2 separate regions of the Homo sapiens genome follow, and region 1 is linked to region 2. The links come from fine-mapping of genetic effects on gene expression. Tissue or cell type: whole blood. Region 2 holds a variant in brackets; the other region holds the start of a gene. All regions are shown on one strand. Distances are from middle to middle.

Region 1 (2,500 bases), 42 kb before region 2:
TAAATACTAGAGTTGCCGGGCTCCCAGCTCAGCCCCAAGAATTCTCCCCTCCTCGCAGGGAGAAGCCACCGCCTGGCCCCCTCATCTTAGACGCACCAAGTCCGGCGCAGAGGAAGGGAGGGGACACGCGGAGCAGGCCAGGCTTTCAGGAGGCACCGGAATCTCCTAGTCCTGGCTCGCACGGCTCGGGCAAGCCTCGAGATCCGGCGACCCCAAACCACTCCCTGGGTCCCCGCCGGAGGCTGGCCCAGGGCGGTCCCACAGCCGCGCGCCTCACGCGCAGTTGCCCATGGCCTTGACCAAGGAGCTCTCTGGCAGCTGGCGGAAGATGCCCCGCAGCGTGTCCAGTTCGCGGCTCAGCTGTTCCACCCGCTTGCGCAGGCGGTCATTGTCACTGGTCAGCTCCAGCACCTTCTGCTGCGTCTCCACGTTGCGCTGCTTGGCCTTGTCGCGGCTCTTGCGCACCGCGATGTTGTTGCGCTCGCGCCGCACCCGGTACTCGTTGCTGTTCTTGTCCACCGACTTCTTGGCCTTGCCCGCGCCGCTGCCGCCACTCGCGCGGAGGTCGGGGTGCGCGGCGCCCAGCCCCTTGAGCGCGCTGCCAGGGCCCGGCAGGCCGGCGGCACCGAGCGCGGGCGCGGGGTGCGGGCTGGGCACGGGCGTGGGCGGCGGCGTGGGGTGACCGGGCTGCAGGTGCATGGTGGTCTGGCCGCAGTGCGCGATCTGGAACTGCAGGTGCGGGGCGGCCAGGTGCGCGGGCGGCGGGTGCGGGTGCGGGTGCGAGGGCGGCGGCGGCGGCGGCGGCTGGTAAGGGAAGAGGCCGGCCAGCGCCAGCTGCTTGGCTTCATCCTCCTCGCGGGGCTCCTGCTTGATCACCAGCGGCCGCAGCGCCGGCGCCCCGACGCGCTCGTACAGGGGCTCCAGCCTGCCGTCCAGGTAGCCGGCGGCCGCGCAGCCGTAGCCGGGCGGGGGCCCGTGCGCTCCCCCGGGCATGACGGCGCCGCCGGGGCCCGCGGGCGCGCCCGGGTAGTCAAAGTCGCCGCCGCCGCCGCCGCCCGTGGGGCCCACGGCCGCCTTGGCCTTCTCCTGCTGCCGGCTGTGCTGGAACAGGTCGGCCAGGAACTCGTCGTTGAAGGCGGCCGGGTCGATGTAGGCGCTGATGTCGATGGACGTCTCGTGCTCGCAGATGCCGCCCAGCGGCTCCGGGGCGGCAGGTGGGGCGGGAGGCTGCGCGGGGCCCGCGCCCCGGGGAAAGCCGAAGGCGGCGCTGCTGGGCGCGTGCGGGGGGCTCTGCAGGTGGCTGCTCATCGGGGGCCGCGGCTCCGCCTCGTAGAAGTCGGCCGACTCCATGGGGGAGTTAGAGTTCTCCCGGCATGGCGAGCCTCGGCGGCCTCCAGCCTGCGCGGGGCGTCGCCGCCGCCCACCCGGAGACCCTGCTCGCCCGCGCCCGCGCACCTCCGGGTCGCGAATGGCCCGGCCCGCGCCGGCCCAGCTTTTATACCCGGCAGGCCGCGTCGCCCCCTAGAGTCCGAGGCGGCCTCTGTCCCCGGGCTGCGGCGGCGCGGCGCCTGCTGGGTCCTAGCGCGCGGCCGGCATGGGGCGGCGAACCAGCGCGGCACAGCGCCGCGCTCCCCAGGCAGGCCGCGGCGCAACGCCCACCGCCTCCAGCGCGCCCAGCAGAGCCGCGGCGCTCGCTCCAAGCTCCGCCCCCGGCCCGGCCGTCGCCCCCGCGCCCACGTGGTCGGTAGCGGGGGCCCCCTCCTCCTGCCTGCCCTAGGCGCCCGTATCCAGCCACGGCCGGGAGCCCAGGAGTATCCCGAGGCTGCACGGGGTAGGGGTGGGGGGCGGAGGGCGAGTCTTGGTCTTGAGCTGCTGGGGCGCGGATTCTCTTTCAAAGCCAGAACCAGGCCTGTCCCGGACCCGCGTCCCGGGGAGGCTGCAGCGCAGAGCAGCGGGGCTGGGGCCGGTGGGGGGCCGTTTGGGACGCGCGGAGAGGTCCTGAGCGCGGTGGCTCTGCGTCTCCTAGCTCTGATCTCCAGGCTACCCCTGTGATTCCGCGCAGAGGTACCTCTCGGAGGACGCCGGGGTCCCATGGGCGGCGCCGCGCAGGGCGCTAGGACCCCGCGGGGAGCGGAGGCGGCCTCGGCCCGGGAGCCTGGAGGACCTGGCCGGTCGATCCGCCCGGGCTGGAAAACTTTCTTTATAATTACTTCTCCAGGTCGGAGCGCGCGGCTTGCTAGGCGCGCGGGGCCGGCGCTGTTACCCGGCGTGGAGTCGCCGATTTTTTTTCCTGCGGGACCGCGGGGCCCCCCAGACTAGCGGAGCTGGACGCCGGGGCGAGCACGGGGAGGGGCGCACCGAGGGAGGAGACAAACTTAACTCTGGGGCCGGGATTCCGAGGCGGGGGCCGCAGCCCTCGAGGCCCGAAGCCACCGCTTCCTCCCCCGCCTCCCCATTCAGGTGGGCGCCAACGGCGGGAGCGAGGGTGTCCAGGCCGCCG
Region 2 (2,752 bases):
AATGTTCATGGAGGTGTTCATAATAGCCCCAAACTGGAAACTAACCACTTCTCCAATGGATAAATCTTGGAATATTCACACAGTAGAATTTTATGGAGTAGCAAAAATGAGTTATCTTTTGCTACTGCCAACATAGGTGAATCTCATGAACATAATGTGGAATGACAAGAGCCAGATATGAAAGAGGACCATCTGCACATTCCATGGAATTGCATTTATATCAAGTTTTCTATCAAACAGGCAAAACTACTTCATGGTGTTTGAGGGGGAGGGAGGGTGGAGACTGGGATAAGAATCACAAGGGGACTTCTGTTCCTTGATCTGCGTGCTAGTCTTGTGAAATTTCAGAGCTGTGCCCTTATTAGTTCCTTGAAAGAAAAGTAAAGCAAGGCCGGGTGCAGTGGCTCATGCCTATAATCCCAGCACTTTGGGAGGCTGAGGTGGGAGGATTGCTTGAGCCAGGAGTTCAAGATGAGCCTGGGCAATATAGTGAGACCCCTGTCTCTATAAAAAAAATGAAAAAAAAAATAGCCAGGCACAGTGGTGCACACCTGTAGTCTCAGCTACTCCGGAGGCTGAGGCAGGAGGATCACTTGAGCCCAGGAGTTTGAGGCTGCAGTGAGCTATGATCATGCCCCTGTAGTCCACACTGGGCTATAGAGCAAAATCCTGTCTCAAAAAAAGAGAAGGAAAGAAAGAAAAAGAAAAAGAAAGCACCTCAAACAAGCCTGATACTGATTTGCAACTCATTAAACAACAAACACTTTTGTCAGTACAATGCAAGTATCCATCTTCTTAGGTCCTTGCCAGGCAGGTGGCCAAGAGGTCAAATCAGCGTGATTCTCTCCTTGCTGCTGACAGCGTTTCTAATTCAGCTGCTCATCAACAGTTCTGAAAATTTCCCCTAAGGGACTACATTTTCCATGGTCAGAGAAACATTAAATTGACTATTTTTAGAAAAAGGAGCTTTGATAAGAGACTACTTTTCATTATGGAATTGAGAAGAAAGAATTAGGACAGAAAACCTGGGTAAACGAGACAGAAATAGACCCAACAAACGTACCCAGATGTGGTCTTGATCCCTTAGGAATCCAAAACTAATTTATACCACGGATTCTTCTTAAGGATATGGTTCTCTTATTCCCAGCTGATTTTTAGGAGAATTTCGGTATGAGGTGTCCCCAGAGCTGGCCGAGTCTACAGTTGCCATTCCCAAGCCCCTCCCTTCTCCTCTCTCTTCCCGGATACCATGGAAACCCATAATCAAAGGCAACGCCAACAACTCCTCTTCCTTCTCCCACGGGGCAGAGCTGAGCGCTCAG[A/G]GATGCAGCTTTGGATGAAAAATGAGAAAAAAAAAAAAGAAAGAAAAGAAACTGAGCTCGCTGGAGATTCACCCTTGCAACTCTTAACAAGATTTGGCATCTGTGTACCTCATGTGATTCTGGGAGAATTCTGTATCAAAAACAGTTTTGTGTGTGTATGTGTGTGTGTGTGTGTGTGTGTGTTTTAATGACAATCTTGACTTGATGAATATCCCAGTAATCGAAGGTGAGGTTTTCCTCATATGCCGGTGCCTCTTTTTCCCTTCCCTCTAAGGAGAGCAAACTCCTGGCAGATCTCATGTGAGTTTTTGGAAATAAGTGTGGCTGTTACTAAATCCATGCACAGGAGAACACATTCTACTCTCGGGTGGATCCCACTGGCTCTTGTTTGCACGTGTTTTGGATGGAGAGGCCCCTTTTAAAAGATAATTCACTAAGCATGTCATTTCGGTGAGTTTTACTTAAATTTCAGTTACAGTAAAATTCTCCCCGCAGGAACACATCTCTTGTCAAGAGAAAGGAACTTAACATTTTCCTTTGTAGGAGTCTAGCTGCCTCTGTGAGCACAAATCCTATATATATAATCCTTGAAGAGAAGGTGGAGAGGAGGGGAGGAGACATTTCCCAAGGGAGTGGCTGTGATTATACCTACGATAGCAGGTGGTAGGAGAAAAAGTGAATTTGGCAGTTTTCAGAGTAATACGACATCTCTAGAAAGCCATTCTAGATAGTCCAATCTCATGGCCCATTTTGGGGGCTTTGATCCTATTGATGGGACTGTGTAAGTCTTTGGTTCCACATGGCCTTCTCACTGTGGCCTCGGCTGTGCTATTTAAAATGTACTTTATCCCACGCCTGTTCCTCTTTAGCCTCCTCCGCTTTCCACCCCCACGATACTTACCACCTTTTAATACAGCATGCACTGCTAGTGGGAGTGTAAATTAGTCAGAAATAATAGAAAACAGCATGGAGGTTCCTCAACAAATTAAAAATAGCACTACCATAAGATCCAACAATCCCACCAGAGGGTACAGATCCAAAGGAAATGAAATCGGCATGTCAAAGAGATTTCTGTACTCTTATGTTTATTACAGCATTATTCACAATGGCCGAGATATGGAATCAACCTAAGTGTCCATCAATGGATGGATGAAGAAAATGTGGTATATATACACAGTGGAATACTATTCAGCCTTAAAAAAGAATGAAATCTTGTCATTTGCAGCAACATGGATGAACTTTGAGGACCTTATGTTAAATGAAATAAGCCAGGCACAGAAAGACAAAGTCTATGTGACCTTACTCATATGTGGAGCCTAAAAAAGTTGATGTGGCTGGGCACTCTGGCTCATGCCTGTAATCCCAGCATTTTGGGAGGCCAAGGCAGGCATATCACCTGAGCACAGGAGTTTGAGACCAGCCGGGACAAC

Evidence for each region. PIP is the estimated chance that this variant, and not a neighbour inherited with it, causes the effect.
Region 1: CEBPA starts here. The variant in region 2 is fine-mapped to the expression of CEBPA in whole blood (TOPMed, PIP above 0.99).

What each region holds. Positions count from the first base shown.
Region 1 is chr19:33,301,065-33,303,564 of GRCh38, forward strand. CEBPA (CCAAT enhancer binding protein alpha) reads right to left here and starts at 1,470. Exons shown (of 1, transcript NM_004364.5): 1 at 1-1,470. The coding sequence starts at 1,350. The coding sequence ends at 274. CEBPA-DT (CEBPA divergent transcript) reads left to right here and starts at 1,757. Exons shown (of 1, transcript NR_026887.2): 1 at 1,757-2,500. RefSeq lists silencers at 1,301-1,870, 1,951-2,210.
Region 2 is chr19:33,343,166-33,345,917 of GRCh38, forward strand. No RefSeq gene overlaps it. Among named protein-coding and RNA genes, the nearest start is that of CEBPG, 29 kb to the right of the region's middle. The variant A/G (reference allele first, on the strand shown) is at 1,323.